Regions from separate parts of the Homo sapiens genome. Here all the other regions are linked to region 1. Evidence: fine-mapped expression QTL. A gene starts in region 1. Each other region holds a variant in brackets. All regions are shown on one strand. Distances are between the middles of the regions.

Region 1 (2,764 bases):
GAGATGGCAGAGTAGCCTGTCAGTGGGGCAGTCAGAACATACACATTTATTGATTGATTGCTGTCTTCTATGGGTGTGGTTTGTGGTGCCTCAAAACAATTACAACAGTGATTTCAACTTATCACTGATCATAGATCACCATAGCAGATTTATGGGAAGAAAAATGATAAACGCAATCATATTGGTAGTGTTCTAGTCCTAGGTTCGTTCATGCATGTTCATGTTATTGATAAGCACCATAACTTCAATTTCATATGTATAAAAATGCTCAAAAAAGTGTACATCCTCTTTTAGCACTGTAGTGAGTCAACATTCCCCAACAAAAACTGGATTTCCTGAAAAACAGGTTAAGGTAGGAGGTTGGGGGGGGGATGCTTTTCAGAATGGCAAAGGTCAACATGTATCATCTTCTGTAAGTAAAATGTATGTATAGGCATACCTTTCTTTCAGTTTAAGACAAGGGGGTGTAGTGGGGAATTATCGTGTAAAACTACACCAGTATCTTAAGCATGAAAATCAATTATATGCTTTTCTTTTGTTTGTTGGTCAAAGAAAAAGATTATAACTCAGAAAACTTTCTTGGAGATGCGTATGCTCAGTGTATCCAAACTTTAGGCATGTCAGGTACAATATTGATTTACAAAAAGTTCCTCTAATCAATCCTGAGCTAATAACTTACTGTGGAAAGAGTAATTGATCAGAGCCATCCCTCCAATTGGAGTCAACTTCCATGACTGTTCGGATTTCCTTTATTTTGGGGGCAGTTCATCCAAACTTCTATTAAACGGCAACTAGTTCACTTTTGAGAAGTGGTTTACAAGAAACAACAACAACAACAACAAAGCAGTTGCGGAGGAAAGAAAAGAGACAAAGTAAAAAAAACGGAAAAGAAATCTCCCAGGAGAAAGGGATGTGGAAGCTGAAAACACGGACAATTTCCACAGTAAGACTTCCAAAAGAATGTGCAAGATCCGAGCAAAACTTTCAAGGGCTCTTTTTCAGTGTAATGGTAGTGAGAAAGTTCAGCCTGGAAAGCCCAGGGCTTAAAACAACAACAACAAAAAACACAATATGCAGGATCGTTCGGCTTCAGCAGAACCCACCGCAAAGATGGCGGTGGGACGAAGCCCCTTCTCCCGCCGCCGAAGCCTCTCGCCTCACATTTCCCACAAACCCTTCGCGCCGCCTCGCTAGCCGAAACCTGCCCAGCCGGTGCCCGGCCACTGCGCACGCGCGGGACGACGTCACGTGCGCTCCCGGGGCTGGACGGAGCTGGCAGGAGGGGCCTTGCCAGCTTCCGCCGCCGCGTCGTTTCAGGACCCGGACGGCGGATTCGCGCTGCCTCCGCCGCCGCGGGGCAGCCGGGGGGCAGGGAGCCCAGCGAGGGGCGCGCGTGGGCGCGGCCATGGGACTGCGCCGGATCCGGTGACAGCAGGGAGCCAAGCGGCCCGGGCCCTGAGCGCGTCTTCTCCGGGGGGCCTCGCCCTCCTGCTCGCGGGGCCGGGGCTCCTGCTCCGGTTGCTGGCGCTGTTGCTGGCTGTGGCGGCGGCCAGGATCATGTCGGGTCGCCGCTGCGCCGGCGGGGGAGCGGCCTGCGCGAGCGCCGCGGCCGAGGCCGTGGAGCCGGCCGCCCGAGAGCTGTTCGAGGCGTGCCGCAACGGGGACGTGGAACGAGTCAAGAGGCTGGTGACGCCTGAGAAGGTGAACAGCCGCGACACGGCGGGCAGGAAATCCACCCCGCTGCACTTCGCCGCAGGTAACCGGGGCCAGCGTCCCCTCGCCTCGCTCCAGACCCCACCTGCGCAGCCGGGGCCCACAGGTCTGAAACCAGTGCTCCTCCGCCTCCCGACCTTTCTCCAGGACTCTGGTCCTGGTGATCTCGCTCTCTTCCAGTGGGGACTAAGGAGATTAGGGGTAGGGTGAGCGTGCCACACTCGCTGGAAGTTTTTTGTTTTGTCTTGGTTTGGTTTTTTTGCCAGGTGTTGGGGGTGGTTTGGGGTTTTGGCTTTGTTTTGTTTTACAGTATCAACAATACCTGTACCAACTTCCGGTCTTGTTACCCTAGAAGGCCTCTACACACAAGAAAGAGTAGGGGACGTAGTTGATAGACCTTATGATTTAAAAGGTCAGTTACCTCCAAAATTTTTCGTTCTTGCAAGTTCCATTTGGGTTAAGGTCTTGAAGGACTTTGTAAAATACAAGGATGTAATTTAGGAGGAGTAGCTTAATAGGACGTTGACACATTAGCGTTAATTGGTTTATCAGAATAGCCAATCATTACCAAGTTTCTGGAGTGACTAGAACGGGAAATAGGCAAGTTTGGGAGAACTGAAACCTGACTTAGGCTGGGTGCGGGAAGCCTTAGACACACACACATACAAGTTGGGCGGAAAGTGGTAGTATAAGAGAAAAGATAGTGCAAGTACTTTAGCTTGAATCTAGAATTTAAGTTGGGACTAACCTTGCTTCATTCTGAAATTTAGATCGTTTGAATTACATTATTTTAATATTTATTAGGTTCACTTTATGATTTAAGCATATTAAATTTAGTCGAAAAATTTAAAAGAGCCATAGATGGGATATTCAGCTTATTCCCATAAAGCATGCATGCTGTTCACTTGTAGGAAAGATGATGACTGTTTCTAACTTCAGGTGAGTCATGCGTGATTGAAAATGGGAGTACCTCCTCTTACCTCTGACAATCCTGGTTTTTTGTTTTGTGTATTTCATGATTGTTTAAAACAATTTTTTGAAAAATCGGGGA
Region 2 (2,764 bases), 45 kb after region 1:
AAGTAGAGTCTCAATATAAATTTAGTTTTTCTTTGGTATAGTTAACACTGACTATTTTCTCATTGACCAAAGGCACATTTAAGCCATTTCCCCCTTTTTTTCTGTTTTTCACATGCCTAGCATGGTGCAGACCCTACAAAAAAAAACAGGGATGGAAATACTCCTTTGGATCTTGTTAAAGATGGAGATACAGATATTCAAGATCTGCTTAGGGGAGATGCAGCTTTGCTAGATGCTGCCAAGAAGGGTTGTTTAGCCAGAGTGAAGAAGTTGTCTTCTCCTGATAATGTAAATTGCCGCGATACCCAAGGCAGACATTCAACACCTTTACATTTAGCAGGTAAGTGAATGAAGTTTCACAGATTTAGGCTGGTAATATCTGAGATTCATTTTACCCAGGTAAAATATTTTCTGTAACTAAACTTTAAAAATTCAAATCAGGCCAAGCATGGTGGCTCACACTTGTAATCCCAACACTTTATGAGGCTAAGGCAGGAGGATTGCTTGAGCCCAGGAATTTGAGAGCAGCCTGGGCAACATGGCAAAACCACACCTCTATAAAAAATTACAAAAATTAGCCAGGAGTGGTGGTGTGCACCTGTAGTCCCAGCTATTCAGGAGGCTGAGGTGGGAAGATTGAGCCCAGGAGGTCACGGATGCAATAAGCCTTGATTGTGCCACTGTACTCCAGAAACAAAGTGAGACCCTGTCTCAAAAAATAAAAAAAATAAATAAAAATTCAAATCAAGTATCTTCTAATGCCACCATTATACTCTTCAGTGTATTTGTACAGGACGACCGTACTTGAAGCTATTAGCTGAGTTCGAGTTCACTTTATTACTAGTATGTTACATTCAGTAAGAACAATTGAAGTAGGCTCTGCCAGTCCCCATGTGCTTTGGGAATCATTATTCCAGGTAATCATTTTATTGGTATCACCTTTGGTAAACAAGTTTTGAAAAATATGCCTACTTGAGCCAGCCTTCCTTATAGGAAGCTAAAGCTTTCTATTTTTCCTGATGGTAGCTGCTAAGCACAAGCAGGAAAAAAAAAAAATCTCAAAACTCTCAGAAGTTACATAAGCCTCTCACCAAAGTTATCTGTTGTTTTGGTTTGTGAGAGTTCTCATAACAAAATACCAAAGACCAGGTGGCTTAAACAACAGAAATTTGTTTTCTCACAGTTCTGGAGGCTAGGAGTCCAAGTTCAAGGTGTTGGCAGAGTTGGTTTCTTCTGAAACCCCCTCTTGGCTTGCAGCTGTCTACCTTCTCAGTGTGTCCTCCATTGGAACATGGTGTCTCTTTCTATATGTCCTAGTCTCTACTTTTAAGGAAACCAGTCAAATTAGATTAGAGCCCACCCTAATGGGCTCATTTTAACTTTTTTAGCTCTTTAAAGGCTCTGTCTCCAAATAGAGTCATATTCTAAGGTACTGGGGTTAGGGCTTCAACATAAGAATTTTGCAGGGTACAATTCATTTCGTGACATTTGTTTTAAGGTTTCACTCATAAAACTGGCACAGTGTACCTTTGTTTTCAGTGCAAATATACAATATATTGTGGTTTCAGTACAGCTTTTTCAGCTGCATTACAGATGTTAGGAAATCATTAAAATCACTGAGCTATAGCTAATACCTCAGTGGAGTTCCATCATAGACACAG[C/T]GGACTCATACAAGTTTGTCTAAATATACATGATTTAAACATGGTATAAAAAGCAAGAAAAAATAATGCAAAATTTCTGCCATTTCGTGTAATGTGGGAGATGGAAATGTATGATGTTCATTTCAGTCTTGTATTATAACTTGGTGTTATACATGATTTTTACCTTTAAATTCTCACTCCATGTAAGTTGAGACCTCACTGTCCAAAGAAACCAATTACTCTATGTGTCTTTCAAGTATTTTGGAAGTGATAAGCCACAAATGCTAACATGGTGAGAAAAAGCTTTACTTCCACTGGCTATCAGGAGTTTCTAGTCCATGCAAGACAAAATATGACTTGACCTTTGATTGGAAGTTGTGCTGTGCATATTTATGTTAGCTTTTATATCTTTCTTGTAGCCTATCTAGAACACTTAACATTACTGTGTCCAAGTTGTCTTTGTAAGTCACAAATAATTTGTATGCATAAAATATTTCTGTCCACTTCTGCAGCGTTAAATACCATACCTTGAGACCTAGAAAGACTTTTAGATTAATGTAATATTTTATGGTAGTTTTATAATTGTATTCTTCTTTACTTGATCTTTTTAAATTCTTTTGCTTTAAATCCTTTAGCAAAAGGATAAAAACTATAATAGAAATAAGTTTTATTTCATGGCTTTAACAGCACCTAAGTTCCTCTACTAGACTTGCAGAGATGTGTACCTCTGAGTTCTCTCTAGCAAAAAAGCATGCTCTTGTGGCCTTCTGGGGAAGAGGACTCTGAGGCCCACTCTGGTTTGACTTGTATGTGATTGCAGACCTTTGACTTGCAGCCTCTGAGACCCATGTACCTGAGTTCAAGAAGTGGTATGTAACACCCATGAAGGCAGAGACTTTGGTAGGAAGGTTTTCATAGGAAAGATACAAGCAAATCAGTCAATATAATTTTGGGAATCTACAAAGCTAATTGATAACACAAAAAGCTTCCAACTTGAGGCAAGGGGGAAATGTTTTCCAGAAGGTAAATTGTTAATAGAGTCCAATGAGCTATTTCAGATTTATACAAAATCTCTTTTTTTATGTTTTCAGTAATGTCTATGCCTTATAAATACATATATATAT
Region 3 (2,764 bases), 110 kb before region 1:
TCATGGAGCTATTGTGAAGATTTAACAGCCACAAAGATCTTAGATCAGGGTCTAGCTCATGGTAAGTGCTCAATCAATGATAGCAATTATCATCATCCTCTTCATTGAAGACCCTGATGTTCATCAAAAATTTAATGCTCATTAACCTCTAAAGAAAAAGGAAAAGAGAAAGAGATGAGTAAGCATTTGGAATCTTGCTCCACCCAGAACAGAGCTGATGCCACTAGATGTGAGTCCCTCACAGGGCAACAACATCCTCTTTTCTAGAATTCTATCTCCCAGACCCAGTTCCACACCTGCTCATAGTCATTGCCAAGAAAGGATTCTTGAGCAAATGAATAAAGAAGTGAATGGATGAATGCCTATACTGCCTACACCCTGACCACCTTGATCTTGTTGCTCTGGGGCCAGATGAGTAGTTAGAATCTCTCATATTTCCTTACCCTCAAGGGAGGTGCCTCCTGATTCTACTGTGGCTCTTCAGAAACTCTTCCCAGCATGAGGCCCTCACTCCAGACTCTTGACAGCTGAAAGAGAATTGTCCTAAGCAGTGAATCTCAAACTTTAGCATGTATCCGAATCACCTGGAGTGCTTTTTAAAACATAGACTTGGAGTACTTTTTTTTGAGATGGAGTTTTGCTGTTGTTGCCCAGGCTGGAGTACAGTGGTGCCATCTCGGCTCACCAAAACCTCCGCCTCCTGGGTTCAAGCAATTCTCCTACCTCAACCACCCTAGTAGCTGGGATTACAGGCATCCACCACCTCATCCAGCTAATTTTTGTATTTTTAGTAGAGACAGGGTTTCACCATGTTGGCCAGTTGGTCTTGAACTCCTGACCTTAGGTGATCCACCCACCTCGGCCTCCGAAAGTGTGGGGATTACAGGCGTGAGCCACTGCACCCAGCCCTGGAGTGCTTTTTAAAACATAGATTTCTGGGCCCACTCTGGAGTCTCTGGTTTAGTAGGTTTGGACCAAGAATTTGCATTTCTAACAATTTACTGGTCCTGGGAACACACCCTAAGAAACACTGTCCTGTTATTTTTTGACTGTTTAACAAAATCCATGAGGCTGTGGAGAGAAAGGGGGACATTGATACACTCTTGGTAGGAATGTAAATTAGTCCAGCCACTGTGGAGAGCAATTTAGAGATTTCTCAAAGAACTAAGAGTTGAACTACCATTTGACCCAGCAACACCGTTCCTGGATGTATACCGAAAGGAAAATATATTGTTCTACCAAAAGGACACATGCATTCATATGTTCATCACAGCACTATTTACAATAGCAAAAATTTGGAATCAACCCAGGTATCCATCAAGAGTGACTGGATAACAAAAACGTGATACATGTACACCATGTACTACAGCCATACAAAAACAATGAAATCACGTCCTTTGCAGCAACATGGATGCAGCTAGAGGCCACTAACCTAAGTGAACTGAGGCAGAAATGGAAAAGCAAATACTGCATGTTTCACTTATAGGTGACAGCTAAACATTGGGTACTAATAAAGTGGTAACAGTGGACACTGGAGACTACTAGTGAAGAGAGGGGAGAGAGGGAGGGGAGCAAGGGCTGAAAAACTACCTGAAAAAAAACCATAGT[G/A]GTACTATGTCCACTACCTGCGTGATGGGTTCAGTCATATCCCAAACCTCAGCATCATGCAATATACCTTTGTAGGCCAGGCACGGTGGCTCATGCCTGTAATCCCAGCACTTTGGGAGGCCAAGGCGGGTGGATCACCTGAGGTCAGGAGTTCGAGACCAGCCTGGCCAACATTGTGAAACCCCCAAGACACAAAAATTAGCTGGGCGTAGTGGCATGCACCTGTAATCCCAGGTACTTGGGAGGCTGAGGCAGGAGAATCGCTTGAACCTGGGAGGTGGAGGTTGTAGTGAGCTGAGATCGTGCCACTGCACTCTAGCCTGGGCAACAGAGCAACACTCTGTCTCAAAAAAAATAAAAAATTTTATATATATATATATATATACACACATATATATATGTGTACATATATATGTATACATATATATGTATACACCTTGTTACAAAGGTATATATATATACACCTTTGTAACAAACCTGCACATGTACCCCCTAACTCTCAAATAAAAGTTAAAAACAAAGCACTGTTCTAAAGCATGGCTTTGATTGCATCATCCACTGCTTAAAAATCTCAGAGAGTTCCTTTTAAAAGTCCATGAACTAAAGCTACTAAATAAAGTCCTCACTCCTTAGTCTCAGGCCCTTCCAACACAGCCCAGTCCAACTTTCTAGCCTCATTTCCTGCCACTCCCCTCCATTCTCTCTAACCACACTGGGCTGCTTTCCCTTTTAGGGACTCTCCAGTGGCCCTGCCTCTGCACTGTTCCCCAGGCCTGCAGTGCTCTTTTCTCCTTCCCTCCTGATCAAGTCCTAGTCATCCTTGAAGATCTGATCCAAATGTCATCCTCTGTGTCACTTTCTCCAAGTCCCTCCAGGCATGCTGTGTGGCCAGAACATACCGTACACAGCCTTGCTATCACCCTTGTGCGTTGGCATTGTCTGTTACATGTCTATTATGTTACTAGATTGTCTTTGCCCCTCCAGCCATGACCATGCTATTTATTTTCATTTGATGCTCCAAGCCCAGCACAAGGCTTGCCAAAAGGGGCAATTTAGCACACATATGATAAATAAGTGAATTCCAGACTGTGGTTGCCCCAGTTGATATCTGTTGCCTGCTCCACACATGTTTACTGTATTAATCAACTATTGCTAT

Evidence for each region. PIP is the estimated chance that this variant, and not a neighbour inherited with it, causes the effect.
Region 2: its variant is fine-mapped to the expression of TNKS2-DT in whole blood (INTERVAL, PIP above 0.99).
Region 3: its variant is fine-mapped to the expression of TNKS2-DT in whole blood (TOPMed, PIP 0.97).

What each region holds. Positions count from the first base shown.
Region 1 is chr10:91,797,134-91,799,897 of GRCh38, forward strand. TNKS2-DT (TNKS2 divergent transcript) reads right to left here and starts at 1,158. Exons shown (of 2, transcript NR_108071.1): 1 at 1,104-1,158. TNKS2 (tankyrase 2) reads left to right here and starts at 1,293. Exons shown (of 27, transcript NM_025235.4): 1 at 1,293-1,756. The coding sequence starts at 1,558. RefSeq lists an enhancer at 1,002-1,171 and a silencer at 1,252-1,661.
Region 2 is chr10:91,842,052-91,844,815 of GRCh38, forward strand. TNKS2 (tankyrase 2) reads left to right here. Exons shown (of 27, transcript NM_025235.4): 16 at 121-340. Among named protein-coding and RNA genes, the nearest start is that of TNKS2, 45 kb to the left of the region's middle. The variant C/T (reference allele first, on the strand shown) is at 1,662.
Region 3 is chr10:91,687,631-91,690,394 of GRCh38, forward strand. LOC107984253 (a long non-coding RNA gene) reads right to left here. Exons shown (of 4, transcript XR_001747550.1): 2 at 444-527; 3 at 1-148. Among named protein-coding and RNA genes, the nearest start is that of PPP1R3C, 56 kb to the left of the region's middle. The variant G/A (reference allele first, on the strand shown) is at 1,609.